Homo sapiens: one gene and its partners. The protein of the gene in region 1 purifies or fractionates together with the protein of each later gene. This does not show direct contact. Each region holds a gene or a part of one and is shown in the gene's direction. Other genes may lie near its edges.

The links.
Region 2: the proteins of LMAN1L (region 1) and MAN2A2 purify together in Homo sapiens (affinity purification with mass spectrometry; one large-scale study listed by BioGRID and IntAct). This does not show direct contact.
Region 3: the proteins of LMAN1L (region 1) and TMEM38B purify together in Homo sapiens (affinity purification with mass spectrometry; one large-scale study listed by BioGRID and IntAct). This does not show direct contact.

Annotation. Positions count from the first base shown.
Region 1 is NC_000015.10:74,815,743-74,819,391, forward strand, and holds part of LMAN1L (protein ERGIC-53-like precursor), read left to right. Parts: intron 1-414; coding exon 415-569; intron 570-684; coding exon 685-792; intron 793-889; coding exon 890-948; intron 949-2,975; coding exon 2,976-3,075; intron 3,076-3,409; coding exon 3,410-3,530; intron 3,531-3,649.
Region 2 is NC_000015.10:90,909,674-90,913,322, forward strand, and holds part of MAN2A2 (alpha-mannosidase 2x), read left to right. Parts: intron 1-416; coding exon 417-619; intron 620-827; coding exon 828-1,010; intron 1,011-1,173; coding exon 1,174-1,288; intron 1,289-1,497; coding exon 1,498-1,565; intron 1,566-1,711; coding exon 1,712-1,877; intron 1,878-2,369; coding exon 2,370-2,606; intron 2,607-2,843; coding exon of another isoform or gene 2,844-2,868; coding exon 2,869-2,991; intron 2,992-3,203; coding exon 3,204-3,318; intron 3,319-3,599; coding exon 3,600-3,649.
Region 3 is NC_000009.12:105,718,418-105,722,066, forward strand, and holds part of TMEM38B (trimeric intracellular cation channel type B), read left to right. Parts: intron 1-3,119; coding exon 3,120-3,304; intron 3,305-3,649. UniProt on the Homo sapiens protein: Intracellular monovalent cation channel required for maintenance of rapid intracellular calcium release. Acts as a potassium counter-ion channel that functions in synchronization with calcium release from intracellular stores.

The DNA of each region.
Region 1 (3,649 bases):
AGTTTCGTCATCTGAGAAATGGGAAGGGTTAGACACAAATCTCTCTCGTGGTGGAAAAAGCTTGTGCTTTGGAGTCATATGGAGCTGAATTCCATCCAATCCACTTAGTTCCTTAACTTTTATGAGCCTCACCTTCCTCATCTGTTAGATGGGGTCTTATAAAAACAGACAGCACACACTGCGGTGAGGCTTCACTGACGACGTGGATGGTGCTGGCATTCATTGCCCTCCCCAGCAAAGGCCCCTCCAGCTGTGCTGGGCTCTGACTCCTGCTTCCCTGGCTGGCCGCTTATTTAATGGTAGGCCTTGGCATTGTCGCCTTCTCTTCCGGGAGCCCAGCCCGGGCCAAGTGAGAGAGTGAAGGGGGAGATGGGGTGTAGTGGAGCCTGGGGCTTGAGCTGCCCTTGTCCACAGACGCCATCCTGGGCCTGGAGGAAGTGCGGCTGACGCCATCCATGAGGAACCGGAGTGGCGCCGTGTGGAGCAGGGCCTCTGTCCCCTTCTCTGCCTGGGAAGTAGAGGTGCAGATGAGGGTGACGGGACTGGGGCGCCGGGGAGCCCAGGGCATGGTGAGTGTCCTCTCCCAGAGCTGACAGAGCGGGGTGGGTCAGGGAGGCGGGTGATGAGCCCCGGGGTCCCAGTATCCCACACGGTTCCCTGAGCTGAGGGGCTGGGGACCTGCAGGCCGTGTGGTACACCCGGGGCAGGGGCCATGTAGGCTCTGTCCTTGGGGGGCTGGCTTCGTGGGACGGCATCGGGATCTTCTTTGACTCTCCGGCAGAGGATACTCAGGTGCGTAGTGGTCTCCTGCCTGCCAGCCCGCCTGCCCGCTCACACCCTCCCCCTCCCGCCATGTCCGCGGCTCAGGCTGCTTCTCACCTCCCTGCAGGACAGTCCTGCCATCCGTGTGCTGGCCAGCGACGGGCACATCCCCTCTGAGCAGCCTGGGTAAGGGCCTGTCTGGACTGACCACTCACCTCCATTTTTGCACTGGGAGGGGCCCATCCCCCCCATCCGAGCCCCTGCCCCAGCCTCCTCCAGCAGGGGGCCCACCCTGCCGGGCCGCCATACTTGCTGGACTCTCTCACTTAGCCGACGTCCGCCCCCCTGGGGCTTGATTCCTTCGACCCAGCAGCCCCAGGTGAAATGACACAGGCTGGGGCCTGTGATGAGTATCTTTGCTCCCATGATCTCATCCCATCTCCAACACCCTCCATAAGTGGGGGGTTATTCGTCCCATTTACAGGTCAGGACATTGAGCCCAGAGAGGGGAAGGGATGTGCCGTGCGCAGTGCTGAACTTTGAGCCCAGACTTACCCCTGGAGGGTCCTCGCCCTTCCCTGCATAGCTGTCCCTTCCCTTTCCCCTGATGATTTGGCTTCTGTCCCTCCCCGGCCCTACTGCCTCCTCAGTAGCTGGGCCGGTTTGTCAGTGTCTCTCAGCAACCTTCTCTCGGCTCATAACAATTAGAGTAATTGCCTGCATTTATGGAGTGAGCTGATTGTATGCCAGGCACAGCACCAAGCCCTTCTCATTTACTGTCTTAGTTAACCCTCATAACATTGTTATGAGGTCGTTCCAATTACCATCCTCGTTTTAGAGATGGGAACACTGGGGTTTGGAGAGATGAGATGGCTTGCCCAAGGTCACATAGCTCGGGGCACAAACCCAGGTGGCTGCTGTGGTGCTGGCTTCTCCCCTGCCCTGTGCTGCCTCCCTCTTGGCGGAAGGCGGCACTGTCAGACGCTCTGCTGTGAGTAGCCTGAGGTGTCCAGAGACACTCAGCGTTTAACACTCTTCTCCTGACTCCCCAGAGCCTGCCGAGCCGACCTGTCAGGGAGGCAGCCTGGTCACATTGTCCTTGGCTGCCGGGACATGTCCAGGTCATCCGTCCTGAGTCAGCTGCATTCTGAGCCCTGGCAGCTGGGAGAGGAAAAGGAAGCCAGAGGCACAGAGGACTTGGAGTTTAAAAGAAGGAGGAGGGAGAGGCCAGGCACAGTGGCTCACGCCTGTAATCCCAGCATTTTGGGAGGCTGAGGCGGGCTAATCACCTGAGGTCAGGAGTTTGAGACCAGCCTGGCCAACATGGTGAAACCCTGTCTCTACTAAAAATTAAAAAAATTAGCCGGGTGTGGTGGCGAGCACCTGTAATCCCAGCTACTCGGGAGGCTGAGGCAGGAGAACCGCTTGAACCCAGGAGGCAAAGGTTGCAGTGAGCCGAGATCGCGCCACTGCACTCCAGCCAGGGCAACAGAGCAAGACTCCGTCTCAGAAAAAAAAAAAAAAAGAGAGAGAGAAGAAGGAGGGACGTAAGGGTGATAGGACGAGGGTGATAGGTGGGTCGGGGGAATGGAGGGCAGAAACTGTATTGTTGGTCCAGGCCTTTGTCCCCTTAAGGAAGGGCCACAGGGAGGCCCCTGGCCCCTTCTGTAAATCCAAGTCCCAACACTCCGTCAGGCAGGGCTTGCTTCCCCTGCTCCTCTCTCTTCTGCCAAGGGAGCAGGGTACAACAAGGGAGACTCAAGCTAGACAAGGTACATGTCCCATGCCAGCTCGCCCAGCGGAAAGGGAGGTGGCACAGCAAATCTGGGCAGAGTGGCTTCTGGGACTGCCCTCACTGTCCAGGCCTTGAGTCCTGTATATCCTGGCTGGATTCCAACTGCCCACAAGAGTCAGGCATGGTGGCTCACACCTGTAATCCCAGCACTTTGGCAGCCAAGACAGGTGGATCACTTGAGGTCAGGAGTTTGAGACCAGCCTGACCAACAATGTGAAACCCCATCTCTGCTAAAAATACAAAAATTAGCCGGGCATGGTGGTGCATGCCTGTAGTCTCAGCTACTTGGGAGGCTGAGGTGGGAGGATCACTTGAGCCCAGCAGGCAGAAGTTGCAATGAGCCACAACTGCACCACTGCACTCCAGCCTGGGCAGCGACTCTTTCTCAAAAACAAACAAATGAACAAACTGCCCACAGGGATGGAGCTAGCCAAGGGCTGGGCTCCTGTCATTGGGACTTCCGGAACCGGCCACACCCCTTCAGAGCACGGATCACCTACTGGGGGCAGAGGCTGCGCGTGAGTCACCCTTCCTGCTTCTGACAGGGCTCTGAGTTACAGAGCTGCTATGTGTGCGTGCCCACGGCCCCAACACACCAGTGCCTGTGACACCACGTGAGGTCCCTGGCACACACGGGCCAACATCCACAGGGGATCCTCCATCCCTACACAGAATCCTAACACTCACCCAGAGCACATACATGTAAGGGCTCACATGAGACCAGGAGTGCGGGTCACCTCCATGCCATTCTGATACCAAGCCCTAGGGCCACCTGCCATCCCACGGCCAGGGGAGCCAGGGAGTCAGAGGTAGGGACACCCCCCCACTGCTCACTCTCTCCATGTCCCTCAGATGTCCTTGAACAGTGGCCTCACTCCCAGTGATCCAGGTGAGTTCTGTGTGGATGTGGGGCCCCTGCTTTTGGTCCCTGGAGGTTTCTTTGGGGTCTCAGCAGCCACCGGCACCCTGGCAGGTGAGGATCCCACTGGACAGGTAAGAGCAGAAGGGCAGTGATGAATAAATCACCCTCAGCACACCTTCTAAAGAGCACTGGGGTGGCGTCAGCCACTTCACCACATGACCTGGGCTTCT
Region 2 (3,649 bases), about 16 Mb from region 1:
GCTCACTGCCAGCTCCGCCTCCCGGGTTCACGCCAGTCTCCTGCCTCAGCTGCCCAAGTAGCTGGGACTACAGGTGCCTGCCATCACACCCAGCTAATTTTTTGTAGTTTTAGTAGAGATGGGGTTTCACTGTGTTAGCCAGGGTGGTCTCGATCTCCTGACTTCGTGATCCACTCGCCTCGGCCTCCCAAAGTGCTGGGATTACAGGCGTGAGCCACCGCGCCCAGCCGAAGGTGCCCCTTTTATGTCAGAATTAATTCCCAGGCTCCCCTACTTCTGTTAAGTCTAGAATGGCAGGATGTACAGTTCCTGCTTCTGAGGCCAGAGCCCCTGCCTCACCCCCAACTGCAGCACTGTGGCCACAATTTGCAGGAGGCTCTAGAACTGATGGGAGTGGGTTTTTGGGGTTCCCACAGGCCCAGTTTGGCACTCTTTCTGACTATTTTGATGCCCTGTACAAGAGGACAGGGGTGGAGCCAGGGGCCCGGCCTCCAGGGTTTCCTGTGCTGAGCGGGGATTTCTTCTCCTATGCGGACCGGGAGGATCATTACTGGACAGGCTATTACACTTCCCGGCCCTTCTACAAGAGCTTAGACCGAGTCCTGGAAGCCCACCTGCGGTGAGACCCTGTCCCCGCTTCCAGGCTGGAGGGGGAGAGTCAGCCTTTGGGGTTTAAGGAGGGGCTGGATTGGCTCAGAAGGGAATAGATAGGCCCAGAGGCCAGGGCAGGTAGAGGAGGGGTGGGAAGGAAGGAGGCTGCACTGGCAGAGTGTGGGTGGGCCCTGGCTAGTGGTGCAGGCTGGCAGCTAACTTCTCTCTCTGGGCAGGGGGGCAGAGGTTCTGTACAGCCTGGCTGCAGCTCACGCTCGCCGCTCTGGTCTGGCTGGCCGGTACCCACTGTCTGATTTCACCCTCCTGACGGAAGCTCGGCGCACATTGGGGCTCTTCCAGCATCACGATGCCATCACTGGCACGGCCAAGGAGGCTGTGGTGGTGGACTATGGGGTCAGGTGGGAGCCTTCTCTTTTCCCTTGTAAGCTCCCCTGCTCACTGTCCCAAAGAAAGGACATTGGGTGGTCAGGGGGTAGGCCGGCCTAGGGCTTGTCCTGCTGACAAGGCAGACAGCTTCCCTATGGTCATCTTCTCTCCTTCCCTCTCCTGCGCCACCCACAGGCTTCTGCGCTCCCTTGTCAACCTGAAGCAGGTCATCATTCATGCAGCCCACTATCTGGTGCTGGGGGACAAGGAGACCTACCACTTTGACCCTGAGGCGCCCTTCCTCCAAGTGGTGAGCCCCTCCTGGGTCTGCATGGGGACCCTCTGGTGTGTGCAGGTCCCATCCCAAGAGCTGCTGGATGGGGGTGCCGCTTCTCTTTTTCCTTCCCCATCCGGATGAGTTCTGTGCCCAGTGCAGCCGCTGGTCCACACCTGGGACAGGTGGGGTGGGAGGAGGCTGAGCCCATGATGGTTCTTCCCTTCCGGCTCACTGAATTCCAGGATGACACTCGCTTAAGTCACGACGCCCTCCCAGAGCGCACGGTGATCCAGCTGGATTCCTCGCCCAGGTAACCTGGACTACGCCATGTGCAGAGAGGCAGAGCCATTCCCTGGCTCTCAGGCCCCTCTGCCCCAGCATGTGCTGAACCAGTGCAGGGCGCTTGCCCTGGTCGGAAGCAGCAGCCTCCTGGGTCAGCCCACCTTCTACGCACAGGTTTGTGGTCCTATTCAACCCACTGGAACAGGAGCGATTCAGCATGGTGTCCCTGCTGGTCAACTCTCCCCGCGTGCGTGTCCTTTCGGAGGAGGGTCAGCCCCTGGCCGTGCAGATCAGCGCACACTGGAGCTCTGCCACCGAGGCGGTCCCTGACGTCTACCAGGTGAGGTGTGGGCTTGTCAGGTGGGCCTGGCCCTCTGCCCGTCGTGGGCCCCTCCCCGCCCGGCGACGCCAGCCTCCCACCCTCCTGCTTGTGGCCCTGCTACTCTCCAGGCTGAGGACAAGTGTCCTGGGGAGGGGGTTGTCCAGAAGACAGGCACTCTTGGGATTTGAGCGTGTCCTTGAAAAGAAGGGGAAGGTTGGTATGGTAATAGTAATGGTAAAAATAGCAGTTATAATGCCCCATCATTCAGTCATTCAATGTTTATCGAAAGCTTAATGTGTTGTTACCGCTTCATACTTTTTCAAATATCACTTGAGAATCATAAAGTCTGATGAGGAAGAAAGGGCAAATCAGATCACCTCCACTTTGGAGGAGGGGCAGAGGCCCAGCGGGTGCAGGGGCTTGCTCAAGCCCTCTGTTAGTAAGCGGATGCCTCAGCACCCCTGTGGCGAAAGCCGTGCCCCCACTTCCTCACCCCTCCTGTGCCCACAGGTGTCTGTGCCTGTCCGCCTGCCAGCCCTGGGCCTGGGCGTGCTGCAGCTACAGCTGGGCCTGGATGGGCACCGCACGCTGCCCTCCTCTGTGCGCATCTACCTGCACGGCCGGCAGCTGTCCGTCAGCAGGCACGAAGCGTTTCCTCTCCGTGTCATTGACTCTGGCACCAGCGACTTCGCCCTCAGCAACCGCTACATGCAGGTCTGGTTCTCAGGCCTTACTGGGCTCCTCAAGGTAAAAGGCCAGGGTGGTGGGGAAGGGCCAGGGGCCAGAGTAGGGCGTGTGTGGTGGTGGCACTGTGCAGAGCGGCCTCCCGGCCCTGTGAGCATTCTGCCACCTGACCCACAGTGGACCGGGGCCTGGGCCATCTCAGCTCCAGCCTGACAGCATGGGGAAGCAGGGCACGGCTCCTTGGGGAAGCTATTCCGTGTCCTCCCAGGAGGCAGGCCTGACATGCTGGTGTGGGGCCAGGGGTCAGGGCTGTGTTTTTTGGCAGAGCATCCGAAGGGTGGATGAGGAGCACGAGCAGCAGGTGGACATGCAGGTCCTTGTCTATGGCACCCGTACGTCCAAAGACAAGAGTGGAGCCTACCTCTTCCTGCCCGATGGCGAGGCCAAGGTATCCTAAAGATGCCTTGAACAACCTGGCAGGGAGGGCAGGAGGGGGCACAGGCCTTCCCACAGGTTTATTGCTGCCTGCCAGGGGCCTTGTCTTTCCTGTTCAGCCCAGGGGTGTCTGGGAATAGGTGCTCTCTTGCCCAGCCCTGGGCTGGCACCTTCCTGCTTTGCCCTCTGTGCTGTAGTTTCAACAGCAATCTGCTCTTTCTCTAGCCCTACGTCCCCAAGGAGCCCCCCGTGCTGCGTGTCACTGAAGGCCCTTTCTTCTCAGAGGTGGTTGCGTACTATGAGCACATTCACCAGGCGGTCCGGCTTTACAATCTGCCAGGTGAGCCCTGCATATGAGGAAGGGTCTGGAAGGAGGTGTGGGCTCCACAACTGTGGCGTATTCTTCCTTCTGCTGCTTCTCTGTTCATACCTCTGTTCCGTATCATTTGAGACAGGGATGCTCCATTCTCTTGGAGAAAAAGTCATCCAGAAATGCCCTGGGGATTTCTTGGGAGGTTGGACAGAGCCTCTCCCCAGCTCGGCTCTGATCCCCCAGCCCAGCCTCTTAGCTGTGCTTCAGCCTCACACCTGTCCATGCCCCCACTTTGTTCCTGTACCCAGGGGTGGAGGGGCTGTCTCTGGACATATCATCCCTGGTGGACATCCGGGAC
Region 3 (3,649 bases), on another chromosome or scaffold:
TAGTAGAGATGGGGTTTCTCCATGTTTTGTCAGGCTAATCTTGAAGTCTTCACCTCGTGATCCTCCCGCCTTGGCCTCCCAAAGTGCTGGGATTACAGGCATGAGCCACCGTGCCCTGCCCATTTGATTTTAATTTGAGAGATAAAATGATGTTAGAAATGTTTTTAAACAAGCAAGCAAGGTAATCTTTAGTACAGTAGCTCATAGTGTATACATCTGGAAATTAGCACCATCTACTGGCAAAGAGAAACAATAACTTGGTATGTCATAGTATTGTGTACACTTTCATAGGTTTTATTTGTTTTGAAAAGCTGTTCCCGGGGGAAATAAATATTTTATAATTTTTTAGTATGTTTATTTTTGTTTCCTATATATTTTTCTTAAAATTCCAAGTATCAATTACTTATATATGGCACATTTGTGTAACCGAGACTACATTTAGATGAGGAAAAATACAACAAAAGGTATCATTTTATAGTTGTCATTCTGTCTGTATTTTTCAAAGCATGTACAAAAAATTTTCAATTTGTTGGAGTGATAAGAGCAAGAACAAAGCTGTCATACTGGACTAACATGAACTGTATTTAGTTTATCATTGTGTTTTGTCTTAGTTAAGTGATACTGTCTTCGATAGAGGAGTGGAATTGATAGTAGAGTGAAAACAGAGTTCTCAATGACTAAGCCTGGGAAGCTTCTCTCTGCCTAACTTTTTGTATATACCTAAATTCTACTCTCACTTTTTCTTAAACTGGTTGAGATTTCATTTGTTTGTGGCCTAGGGTCTTGTTTGTATCCCGTTTGAGACGTTTATTCTTTCGTTATTTTTTCTCTCCATTAACTTAACCTATAGTTAAATGTATGAGAAGTCAGTTGTTTTCTCATTCCACTTCCTCTCTCATTTTGTGATATGTTTTCTTTAGGCACTTTACAAGTTAAAGTTACCTTGGATATGATAATTTTAGTTAAAGGTGAAATTATGTTTACAGAAGGGTTACAAGGTTATTACCTAATAAGTGTTGGTTGAGGGATTTATTAAAAGAATTTTAAAGGCTAATTTGTTATAGAGCAGGAATGGTTGTTGAGTGTGCCATTGGTCTGATATGTTTACTTGTAAGTCTACTGAGCACAATAAACAATTGTTCTTTTGCCCTGTGGCTACTTAACTCTCAAATGAAAACAGTTTTTTTGTTTAAAATGTTAACTTATTGTAGGTGTGCTTTAGAAAGATCTGATTAAATAGAAGAGTTGCAATAATTGCAAATTTTTTAATGTCTTATACTATAATGTCACATAGTTGAATACCGAAGTCCAAGATTGCTATTGTAATAGTATAGGTTTTTAACTCACGTTAAAGTTAGGCTTAGTGTAAGGAATGAAAATGGGTCATTTATAACATTCTTTTGGTTGTTTTTCTGAATATTTTACTTTTGGGTGCTCATTACTGCTAAGGTGAAAACAAATCCCCCTTTCTTAATGTAATCTATAATAGATATAAAAATACATTTAAAAATTAAGTGTGTATACTTTTCCCCCATTACCTAACCAACTTCTTAGAAATTAGTTCTATATTCAAAGAGAGAACTATACAGACTTTCAAATTTTCTATGAATGTGTAAAAATTTTAAATCATACTAGTTGTTTTTAAAAATCTTATAGAACATGTACAATTTTAAAGCCATACAAATGGTCTTCAGAAATCTTTTTACTACTCTCAGATAGTTTATTCTTTTTTCTCAAACTCTTTAATTATCAACTAATGCTTTGATTTGCTGTATTTTGGATTTTGAATCCAGATTGACTGCTAATAAATGATTTAATTCAGGGCTACTTTTCATCATGCTGAGTTTTAGGTTAGAGGGTAACAAGATGAATGATTTCTGTCATCTAAGAACTATTGTAGTTCATTATGAGCATTATAGCCTTTATTTTATATTATAAAGAATAATGTATAAAGAGCTATTTTTAGGCATAGGAACCAATTGGTTTAGTTTTACAGAGCCATCAGAATGTAGTCTGAGCTGAGATGTTAAAATAAAATAAGAATCCCAAAGTCAATGACTATGGTAATATTTGAGTGGCACCTTGAAGAGTAGGAAGGAATTGGTAAGTGGAGATGAAGAAGAAAGGGTGCTTTAGGCTAAACAGACTATTGTATCTTTTTATTTAGTCGCTGAAGCAGTATTTTGGCAAACATTTCATATTTCATGAACATTGAAGAATTCTGACTTTATAAATCGTGAATTGCAATAAGATTAATAGCTTCTTTTAAAAGAGATATGATATTCTTTCATGCCATGTCTTTTATTTACCCCGTTAGAAAGAAGATATGTTCTACTTTAAGCACAAAATTGTCAGCCAGAGTATTTGGAGAATGGAGAGAAAAAAGCAGTATGTTTTCCAATAGATCTTACTGCTAGTATTCGAATAGATGCTTAGAACAAATGAAGTTTAAAAAAATAATTTACCATAGATGGGATGAATTATTTTTAATCACAGTTTAATTTGGTTAAAACTTAAGCTTAGTGAACTAAATTAAAGAACAGCTTCATATTCTTTCAGCTGTATAGAAATGTGTTTTTCCTTAATACAAATCTGCCTCCTTGTGAGCCGTCATGTACCTTTGTATAGATTGTAGTTTATGTCCTGCACAGTGGGGCACAGGTGAATATGTTATTTGAGATTGAAATGTAGCCCTTGCTTTTACCAAAGGACCCTTTCTCTAATTCATTTTCCCAGAGGACAAAGACACTGTGTAGGAGTTCCTACCCCTGGAAATGATTATACATTTGTTTTGTTACTGGATTCAGCACTTAGCTTCTAGAACAATATAGGCACAAATTAAGAGCTCACTAAATATTTCATATATCTATAAAGTATTCAGAAGTCCACAGTTTACATTCTTCTCTGATCATGACTTTTTGGCAGATGACATATGTTTCATGTGATTTAAAAAATTGCCTCCCTACCCAAGTTGTGCTTTTATTGAAATCAAGTTAAATGTTTATATGGAAAATTCCATTTGTTGTGTTTTGCCAAATTGTTGTTGCTGTTAGGTTAGATTTTAATTTCTGTTCTTCTGATTCCATTAATATATTAAAATGTTTACATTTCATTTTCAGGTATATTACATTTTTTTGCCCGCATGACCTAGTTTCCCAGGGCTATTCATATCTACCTGTTCAACTACTGGCTTCGGGAATGAAGGAAGTGACCAGAACTTGGAAAATAGTAGGTGGAGTCACACATGCTAATAGCTATTACAAAAATGGCTGGATAGTCATGATAGCTATTGGATGGGCCCGAGGTAATATTGACAATATGTGTTCATAAATATTCTGTTGTTGGTGTATTATTAATACCATTACTGAACAATTCTCTAGTTACATTAATGGATCACATACTTTAATAACAGAGACTTTTTGGAAGGTAAAAACCTTGTTTCTGTTGGCTGGTAAAGTTAATTCAAAACTAGTACTAGTCCTAAGCCATTATTTTGAGCCTGAGTGTCTTATGATAGAAAATTTTTATGATTGGTTTGATTAAGATCCCCAGAACCAGAAAGATTTATAGTTAATTAAGGTATAGTGCCTCTGTAAATAAAATAAGTTTACATAAGAAATTATGTGGTACATATGAATAAAAAATATTG